2 separate regions of the Homo sapiens genome follow, and region 2 is linked to region 1. Evidence: fine-mapped expression QTL. A gene starts in region 1. The other region holds a variant in brackets. All regions are shown on one strand. Distances are between the middles of the regions.

Evidence for each region. PIP is the estimated chance that this variant, and not a neighbour inherited with it, causes the effect.
Region 2: its variant is fine-mapped to the expression of SPOPL in blood mononuclear cells (TOPMed, PIP 0.98).

The regions. Positions count from the first base shown.
Region 1 is chr2:138,499,019-138,504,403 of GRCh38, reverse strand. SPOPL (speckle type BTB/POZ protein like) reads right to left here and starts at 2,634. Exons shown (of 11, transcript NM_001001664.3): 1 at 2,285-2,634. It overlaps SPOPL-DT (SPOPL divergent transcript), which reads left to right and starts at 2,709. Exons shown (of 2, transcript NR_187149.1): 1 at 2,709-3,085; 2 at 3,524-5,385. RefSeq lists silencers at 1,949-1,998, 2,199-2,738.
Region 2 is chr2:138,533,113-138,538,497 of GRCh38, reverse strand. The region is part of intron 1 of SPOPL (speckle type BTB/POZ protein like); the gene reads right to left. Among named protein-coding and RNA genes, the nearest start is that of SPOPL, 34 kb to the right of the region's middle. The variant A/G (reference allele first, on the strand shown) is at 2,458.

The DNA of each region.
Region 1 (5,385 bases):
AAAATGCAGATATAGACATTAGGAAAGCCAAGAAACTAAATGTTGGAAGGAACTATGTGGAAGCAGTGAGAGATGAAAATCAGGTAGAACCTGGATATACAGGAGAAAGAGCAAAGGTTATTCTAGGTCAGGGAACAGCATTACCAAAAACAGTGTCACCCCCAAGTATGGAACATGTTCCATGGTGGCACAAGAATGATTTTAAACTATAAATGGAAAAACATTTTTATTTTGATAGTTACATATGTACATATTTTTACATGTAATTAGGACAGCAAATAGTGATTTCAAACTTTTACTATTTAAAACAACACAAAAGTAATATCTATTCAGATCTTTTAATGTGAGTCCTTTAAAAATGTAATAAGTAAGCAACAGTGCACAAGAGGTAAGCAAATACGGCAAAAACTGTCAGCATTTTTTAAAGTGAGTAAAATTCTGTAAACACCAAGCCAAGAAGACATGTGAATATGAATGAACATAACACATTAAGAGAAAACGGCCACCAGTCTTCTGAAGGAAGACAAGCCAAAGCTCTATCTCGAGTAGTGATTGAAGATAAAGGTCAGATGAGTATGAAGAATACCACCAGTTTTGAGTATTTAACTTACAGTACTAAAACTTTTATCTGTAAAATCTCATTTTCCAGTATGATGAATCTGTTATACACAGTACTTTCACTTTGTTTATTCTCAAAACAAAGGTAAAATTGTAGAAGTTCCAAATAGACATCTGAAATAAGGACTGACCTATCTGTAGCTTGGTAGTTAGCTGCCTTGAAAATGGTGGGCTAAAACCCTGTAGTTTTCAAATCAGAAGGAATTAATTTATACAATAACAAATTATACATGCTATCTATATCAAAAAAGGTTGTTAAATGTCAAAGAATAAGAAAGTAGCTTTCCATTCCCACCTTCCTGTCTTAGAATTAATCTACCCACAAGCCAGATCAAGTCAAACCAAGAAGTGATGATAGCATTTATCAGATATTTGCCCTGTGCCAGGTACTGTTTTAAGTACTTTACTTGTATTTACTTGTGCAATTACTAGCACCATCCTGTGATGTCATATCATAACCCCATTTTACAGCTGTAAGTATACTGAGGCGAAGAAATATTAAGTAACTTCCCCAAAGCCAAAGCTGGTAGATGGCAGAGCAAGGGTTTACACCCTGGCAACTATATACTAGTCTGAGCTCTAGAGAAGAGTTCTTAACCACTAGGCAACATTTCTCACAAGAATGATGAAATGGTAATTTGAAATATTCCACCAATCTCATCGTGGCAGGAGAGATGTAATTTTTCAAGGTATGAACCTTTTACCTCTGTCAGTTTCTAGTCCAAGAAACAGTGGATTCAATTGCAAGTGGGAAAGTGAGTACCACAATGGGTCAAACTAGGCCCAAGATTATTCAAAAATAGACAAAGCATCAGAAGCCTGGAAAGAATCACTGAATGACAGAGTTCAGTCAGGAAAGAGACAAGCGAAAGTTAGGATAAGCAGATGGTGAATCTTATTTCTACTGGGTTGTGTGACTGCTTTGAGAGAGAAAATGCTACCTTCCCTTTTCTTTTATGTTGAATCAATATACAAATACATTGACTCAAAAAGAATTAGGAAAAAGGAGAGCAGCAGGAATACAAGTGGGCTCTTTGAAGACTTGGACCCCGAACCGCGCGGTTAGCTTGATGTACTCTGGTATAAGTGAGCAAAAATGTATTAGAAAGCAGGTTAAAGAGAGGTTAAAGGCATGACCACCGGACTGGAGGTAGTGAGCGGTCTGCGAAGCTGAGAACTCTGCCTAAAATGGGCTAACAGGGACGAGAGTTTCAAGTGTCTGTATTTGGGATGAGGAGGTATGAAAGTGGACGCTGCGCGGTGGCAGAGCATGCAGTTTCTGCCTTTGGGCAGCACTCAGGTAAAAAGGGGCAGGTGTGGAGGTATACAGGTATAGAGGAGGAGAGAAGCCAGAGGAAAAGAAGGGGCGAGGCCCGGGGGTAAAACTAAAGGGGATCCTGGAAGGTGGAGGCTGGGAAATCAAGGAGGGATTGGGGGCAACCCCGGGGAAAGTGGTGCCGCCGCGCGAGGGAAGGGCGGTCCGGGGGCGTGGGAGGTAGTCCCCAGAGCAGGCCGGAGCTCGCCGCCCGAGCAGGGGTCCGGGACCCAGAGAGCAGAGGGCGCAGTGAGGCGCGAGCAGGAGGCCGCCGGTCTACGGAGAGCCGGGGGAGGGGAGCAAGCGCCTGGGGCTGCCGCGGGGACTGGGGGGAGGGGAAGGGGCGCCTACCTGGACGTGCTGGGCGGCAGCGGTCAGTCCTGGTGGAGACTCCTCTCCCGCTGAGGCGGTGGCCGTGTCCGCCCTGGGAGCCCGAGGCTGCGGTGGTGGCAGCAGGGGTGATGGCGGCAAGTCCCTGTGGCGGCCGCCTCCGCCGAACCGCATCCCTCCTCCCCGACCCGCCCTCCTTCCCTATCTCCCGCTCCTAAACTTCTTCCCCGGGATAAACAAACCCGCCGCCAGGGGCGGCCACCTCCGCCACTCCCGCCCCCGCGCAGCCCCCACCCCCCCGCCGCGGGCCCGTCTGGGCTCCGGCTTCCGAGTTACGACTCCAGCCCCGGCTCCAGCCCGCGAGGGCGCGTGCGCGCGGCGGCGGCGGCGGCGGCTCCTGGGCCCTTGCTCCCTCCTACAGCGCCGGGCACTTCCGGGCGGGCCCGGATTTGCCGCCGCGCTTGGGAAGCCGCCACCGCCGCCGCTGCTGCATGGCACTAGGCTCCCGGCGGGGCAGGTTCCGCAGCCGGCACCGCTCTGGCTAGGCGCACGGAGGCGCCTTGCTTAGTCTGACCCTTATTTGGCCAGGCGTAAAACTTGTCCTGCCTAAAAGCCTACTGAGACCTCCTAACTGGTCTAATCCGCGGGAGACGCCAAAGGCGGCGGCCGTTTGTGCGCACAGGATTTTTCTTGGAGCTGTAGCAGTCTAGGAAGCCAGGGTGGAACTTTTGCTAAGCTCCCGTTGTAAGCCCAGAGCTGTAATAACTGCTGAGACACAACCAGCAGTATACAGGCTCCAGTTGGAAATCGAGAACTTTCCAGGTAGATGAAGTGCCCCATGGAGCAGTTTTCAGGTGGAGGGGATGAGGCTCAGCTGGAAGTCTCAGGCCAGAAGGAGAGGCTGCCGAGGGGCGGCCAGGGATGCCTAGGAAGTGAGCGCAGAAGACCAGGCGGCCTCCTGGGACCGCACGGTGGGAAATAAAGCTGCACCTGCACAAATGTGTGAAGAGAGGATGGGATTGCCTTGTCTCTTCGGACATTTAGTTTAAAAAGGGGGTGACAACTGAACTTTTTATTCCCCACGGCCATGGGACAAAGATACTTAATCGAGCTACCAGGAGTAAACTTCTTTAAAGAAGTTTGGGGGACCAACAATCCCGGCTTTGCCAGAACAGACATGAACGTCATTCAAGGATCCCAACTCTTTTTGCTTTAACTGTGCATACGTCAGCAATTTTTGTTTTGTTTTGTTTTTGACAGGGCTGTCACCCAGGCTGGAGTGCAGTGGTGCCATCACAGCTCACTGCAGCCTCGACCTCCTAGGCTAAAGTGATCCTCCCAACTCAGCCTCCCGTAGCTGGGACTACAGGAATGTGCCACGCCCAGGTAATCTTAATTTTTTGTGGAGACGAGGTCTTGCTATGTGGCCCAAGCAGATCTCGAACTCCTGAGCTCAAGGGATCCTCCCACCTTGGTCTCCCAAAGTGCTGGGATTTGCAGGCGTGAACCACCACACCTGGCCATAAACCAACTTCTCATTGCTTACCTGGCTTTCCAAGAAAAGAGAGAGGGCAGAGGGAAAATATTTATTATTTTGCTATGTACTGAGTATTCTAAGCATGGACTTGTATCGTCTCTGTTCTCTCAACAACCTCTCTAAAACTTCAACGTAGAAATTTCCATCTTAAAATTAAGCGACAAGAACTAGAAATGGCAAGTAATTCATCCAGAGGTTACTGGGATTTGAATACTGGACAGGCAGATCCCCCTCATTTCAAATTAATACTACATTAGCTGTCTTTTTTATTTCTTTTTTCTTTTTGTTTGTTTGAGACAGGATCTCGCTTTGTACGCCAGGCTGGAGTGCAGTGGCGCGATCCTGGGTCACCTCCCAGATTCAAGCAATTCTGTGCCTCAGCCACCAAGTATCTGGGACTACAGGCGTGAGCCCGGCTAATTTTTGTATTTTTAGTAGAAACAGAGTCTCACCATATTGCCCAGGCTGGGCTCAAACTCCTGGCCTCAAGTGATCCTCCCACTTCTGCCTCCCAAAATGCTGGGATTAGCACCTGACCTTACGTTAGCAATCCTGTTGACTTATTTAAGACAAAACGTGCTTTAAGACAAAATCTGTGCCAAAGGTTTTCAGATAAAGATAAAATTAGCAATGTAACCATAAAATTCAAAGTTGCCTTGGGCTGAGTTGGTAGAATGTTTATGCAGATCAAGGAACTCCAAAAGTTAAAAAACAGAAGTGGAAGTGAGCATTAGGGAATGGGGAAAGAGTTGGTGGAGAGAGGAAATATTTGTGTAAACATTTAACCATCTCCAAACACCAGCAAAGAACAGTTGAAACGATTTGCTATACTCACTGTCCACCCGTGTTAACTTTATGGTATGTGACATACAGCAAAAATTACATGTAATTTTTGACTAAGCCTTTTAGCTCTTTCAATCCCTTCGTAGTATGTCACCCCCTCTCTTCCCATAATTAAAAATTATAAGACACCTAGTAAATATAATACACTCATAGAATTAAGTTATAAGTCCATCAAGTACATTTCCAATTGGAAGTTAAGAGTGATGCTGACCCTTCACAGTTGACTGGGCTGAAGTTGGGAACTGATTCAATAAACTTCCACCACAAGGATGTCAAATTGCTCCTCAGGGTATTCTCAGAGAGTCTTTTCCCTAGGCTTGATCTCCTTACCCTAAGTGTTAGGACACACCATTCCTCTCTTGCTTGCAGTATTCAATGACTTTACCCACTAATAAAATGATAGTAAATAGTAAGAGTGAATATGGCTTGTAAGTAATGCTAACAAAACTGTGATGGCTTAGCAAAGTAAAAGATGGTTTTATGGTCAGTAAGTTTGGATTAAAGCTTACTAAAGCTTGATGCTTTGTTACCAGTCTGCTAAAGAACTACCTTCTTAATTTGATTTCCTACTTACTGGATACCTATTGGAAAACTAGAGAGATATGATAGGCTTTCATTTATTGCTGCCGTAAATAAATTTTTAAAATAGAGAAATAACAGCTTTGTCATTAGTGTAGAGCACAGTTTGCCTCTGCTAGGTCAGTATTGGGCTTGCTTCGTTTAAGTCATTAACCATTAGGAT
Region 2 (5,385 bases), 34 kb before region 1:
ACAAAACAGACTTTAAGTCAAAAATTGTTATGAGAGACAAAGGATATTATCTATTGATAAAAGGGTCAATTCATCAAGAAGGTATGACAAGTACAAACATATATACACCAAATAATAGAGCCCCAAACGATATCAAGCAAAAACTAACAGAATTAAAGAGAGAATAGACAATTCTACAATAATAGCTGGAGACAGAAATACCCAACATTCAATGATGCAGAGAACGAGGAAGATCAATAAAGAGATAGAAGACTTGAACAGCAGTATAAAATAACTAGACCTAACAGCCATTTCACTCATCAACAGTGGAACACACATTCTTCTCAAGTGCATATGGAATGTTCTCAAGGACAGACCATATGCTACCGAGGCCACAAAACAAGTCTCGACGAATTTAAAAAAATTTAAATTATACAAAGTATCCTCTCTGATTGCAGTTGAATGAAACTATAAATCAGTAACAGAAGAAAAAATTTTAAAATTCACAAATGTGGAACTACCAAAACTGACTCAAGAGGAAACCGAAAATGTGAACAGACCCCCATAACCAGCAGAGACTGAACCACTAATGAAAAAAACTTTCAGCGTGACAACTTGAGGAGTTCCATGGACATACTCCCCAGAAAATTTGGTGAAAAATATAAAAACACTGCTGGAAGCACAGAACAAATGAAGAAACATTTATTCAAGAAAATTTAGTAGAGACTATGAGAAAAGTGAGAGTCTGTGGTCTTTGAACCAGGAGCTGCTCTGTCCTAACTCAAGGAGTCAGAAACTCCACTCTAGACTGGTGTAGCCATAAGCACTGTGTTCCCTCTTCCAACAGGTCCAGTCAATGTCCTCCTGTGACAGGAAGGATGTCAACATTTCTCATCCTGCCTCTAAGGGAGAAGACCACCCTTCATATTGTCTTGTGCCCAATTTCTGCCTCCAAAGAAAAAAGAAGTAAAAACTAAAAGGCAGAAATGAAATCCACAGGCAGACAGCCCGATGCCACGCCCTGGGCCTGGTAGTTAAAAATCAACCCATGACTGAACTGCTTGTGTTATCTATAGATTCCAGACACTGTATGGAAAAGCATTGTGAAAATCCCCGTACTGTTCTGTTCCGTTCTGATTACCGGTGCATGCAGCCCCCAATCATGTATCCCCTGCTTGCTCAATCGATCATGACCCTCTCACGTGGACACCCTTAAGAGTCATAAGCCCTTAAAAGGGACAGAAATTGCTCACTCAGGGAGCTCGGTTGTTTGAGATGTAAGTCTGCCGATGCTCCCAGCCGAATAAAGTCCTTTCCTTCCTCAACTCGGTGTCTGAGGGGTTTTGTTTGTTTGTTTGGCTCATGCTGCTACACCTCTAGCTACTTAATGCTGATGTTACAGGTGAATGAAACCAAGAGGTAAGGGGCTGGCTCCCTTCTTCAAATCTGTCACTGCCGGAAAGGTGGAGGCTCTACTTTGGGCATGGTGCTGTCAGGGTACCAATCACTGCTGTCTTGGCTTGTAAACTGTGGGTTCCATACAAAGAGCGTGAAGATAAGAAGAACTGAGGCTACTGCCTCCCTCCAGCACAGCTCCTACAGTAGAGATACACTGGGAAAGAAATACCATTGTTCCTTCCTCCTTACTCCAGAGCCTGGGCTTGGAGATGTTTGCCTGTGGAAAGAAGTGGACCATAAAGCAGACTGCTTTTAATCTCTTCCCAGAGAAAAGAAGTTCATTTGCAAGGAAACAGGCAAGCATGATCTGAAAAACAGTAGAGGCTGTGAGAGGCAAATGAGAAGAGACTGGAGGAATCAATGGATACAAAGGCTAAACTACAGGACAGCTGATTTGCCCAAAAAAAAACAGGAAAAGACACAGCTGAGAGGAGCCCACCTGGATTCGGAAGAAATTTCAGGCACTGACTTAGGGAACTATTTCTTCAAAGGAAACCAAAGTTGATGAGTCTGCAGAACAACATAATGCCCCAGGGCATTGTTGAAAACAGTGCAATTAGCACTAGATTAATGGACCTTAACAGATGTGAGTAGTCAGGCAAAAAGAAAGCCCTGCCAAACCACCATCACCCAGGGTAACTGGGAATACCCAAGGCTGCTTCCCCAGAGGTGCAACATCAGAGGCTTAACACTGTGTGCGTGTGTGTGTGTGTGGGGGGGGGGCACTAAATAGACTCCACTAAAACAGTCCATAAACAAAATAAGCAAGAAGCAACAGCATGCACTGGAAGGAAGAAACCAGTTCCAAGAATTTCTCAATTTACTACATAAAATATCCAGCTTTGAATAGAAAATTACGAGGCATGAAAAAACAGAAAGTATGACCCATATGCTGGGGAAAAAAACAGATAACAGAAACTGTGATTAAACTTACATGTTGGATTTAACAGACAAAGCATTCCAAATAGCCATTAATAAGTATGTGTAAAGAACTAAAGGAAATCATAATTAGAGGAAGGT[A/G]TGATGACAATGTCACACAAAAAAAATAAAGAATGTCAACAAAAAGGTAAAGGTTATTTTTTTTAAAAGAACCAAATAAAAATTCTGGAGCTGAACCATATAACTGAAATGAAAATTCACTAGAGGAGGTCAACAGTAGATATGAACAAATAGAAGAATTAGTGAACTTACAGACAAATCAGTAGAGATTATACAATCCAGACAGAAAAATATGAAGAAAAATGAACATCTTCAGAGAACTGTAGGACATTATTTTAAGCACACTGACATGTATATAATGGGAGTATCAGAAGGAGAAGAAAGACAGAAGCAGCAGAAAAAGATAACTAAAAAAAATGGCTGAAAACTTCTCAAATTTATTGAAAAGCAATAATATACACATTTAAGGAGCTCAATCAACTCCAAGTAGGTTAAATGCAAAGAAACCCACAAACACATGGATCACAGTAAAAATGCTGAAAAAGACCAAAAAAAAAAAAAAAAAAGCTACTAGAATGGCTATTAAAAAAAAAAAAAGGAGTGGGGAATCACCTGCATTGACGAGGATGTAGAGAAACTGGAATCCTTGGACATTGCTTGTGGAGATGTATAATGGTTTAACCGCTGTGGAAAACAGTTTAAGGATTCCTCAAAAAATTAAACATAGAATTACCACATGATCCAGCTATTCTACTCCTAGGTATATATCCAAAAGAACTGGAAACAGGTGTTCAAATGACTGAAACATAAATGTTCTTTGCTGCAGTATTCACAATAGCCAAAAGGTTACTAGCTAATAATCCATTCATTGATGGACAATCCAAATGTTCATCAAGCAATAAATGAATTTTTAAAATGTGGTACATGTACACAATGAATTTTCCTTTTTTTAAACAGTGTCTTGCTCTGCCACTCAGGCTGAAATACAGTGATGCAATCACAGCTCACTGCCCACACCTGGGTAATTTTATTTCTTATAGACACAAGATCTCACTGTTGCTCAGTTTGGTCCTGAACTCCTGGGCTCAAGAGATCCTTCCAGCTCAGCCTCCCAAAGTGCTGAGATTACAGGTGTGAGCCATTAAGCCTGGTCACACAATGAAATAATATGTAGTCATAAAAATAAATAAAGTATTGATGCATGTTACAACATGAATGAATCTTGAAAACATTATGCTAAGTGAAAGAAGATAGGCACAAAAGGCCACATTGTATCATTTCACTTGTTTTAAATATTGGGCAGATCCATACATACAAAAAGCAGATTAGTAGTTGCCAGACCTGTGGGGAGGGGGAAATGGTAAGTAATTGGTTATGGAGTTTCCTCTGGGACTGATAAAAGTGTTCTGGAACTAGACAGAGGTGCTAGTTGCACAACACTGTCAATGTACTAAGCCATTACGGAACTGTACTTTTTAAAAAAGTAAAAATGATAGATTTTATGTTATATGAATTTTGCCTCATTTAAAAAAAATACCTGCACATAGAAGTCCATATGCACATATATACACATTTCTTTTGTGATTAAAAAGTAATCAAAGTTGTCCCTTTGTTTCCATGGGAGACTGATTCCAGGACTCCCATGGATACCAAAATTCACAGATGTTCCAGTCCCTTATACAAAATGGTATAATATCTGCATTTGATATACACATATCCTCTGGTATCTTTAGATCATCTCTAGATTACTTAACACCTAATACAATGTAAATGCTATGTAAATAGTTGTTATACTGTGCTGTTTTATTAGATTTTTTAAATTGTTGTATTGTTAATTTTTTTTCCCATATATTTTTGATCCACAGTTGGTTGAATCCTCAGATGCAGAATCGGTGGATACAGAGGGTCAACTCTATAAAACACCTTCTATAACTATTGAGTCTATATTAGCCACTATTAGAGAATAAAGTACTAATCGTTATTTTTAATCACCCAAAGGAAAAACTATTGTTTCTTTAAAAAATGTCTTCAATTTTGCAGTATATCAAGTGTGTTAGCTATCAAGCTTCTAGACCAATAAAATATATAAATTATCCAGCAAAGTAGGGTTAAAAAAAATCATGCTGTCTAAAGAGCATTATCAAAATTTTATCCAGTTATAAAATGAGACTGATGTTTATGAGCTACGTCTTTCATTGTCATCTGCAATCAGCTCATTCATCTTCTAGGAGGTAGCTTAATCAATTGTGGTTTAATTATACATACAGTATTTTTGTTTATTAATTCTACAATTAACAAATGGTAAATTACAATTTTGAAATACTACCATATTTATGCTAAAAGTCCTCTGAACTGCTTCAGGATGTTATAACAAAATACTGCCTGAGGTCAAAACAACTTTATATATATGATGAAAAAGAGTTAATATAATATATAACATATAATGTTCAACAGTTTTGCTAAGACTGTACCAGGGAGAATAATTAAGATTCTAATAAGTGTTTATAAAGGTGATAAAATAGTAATACACATATAAATTTCTTAAATCTATTCAAATTAAGTATACGATGACTTTAGGGAAATACAATGAACATTTATTATATGCTTAGATATATCATGCACTCTAACGAAACCTGGGGTATGAAGATAAATAAAACACATTCCCTACTCTTGGCAAAAACTATAACATAGTAGAGGATACAGACACGGAGATATTTTGAATATGATAATATGAGAGAGTACTGTAACAGTGATAATGAAGCACTTCAGGACACAGAAAATGTCCTGAAGATATTCCCTGAGCTGTATTCTATAGGAAGCAAACAAGATTATAGAAAGACCACAAACAATAGCATAGACTTTAATAACAAGAGCTATATACTGAGACCAATGTGAATCAGTGCTTTGCCATGAATTCTGTGATCTTATAGATACTGGGCCTCTCCTTTGTTTATTAAATTATTATAGCACCTCATTGCCCTATGGTTGCTGAGTGGATAATAGGAAATT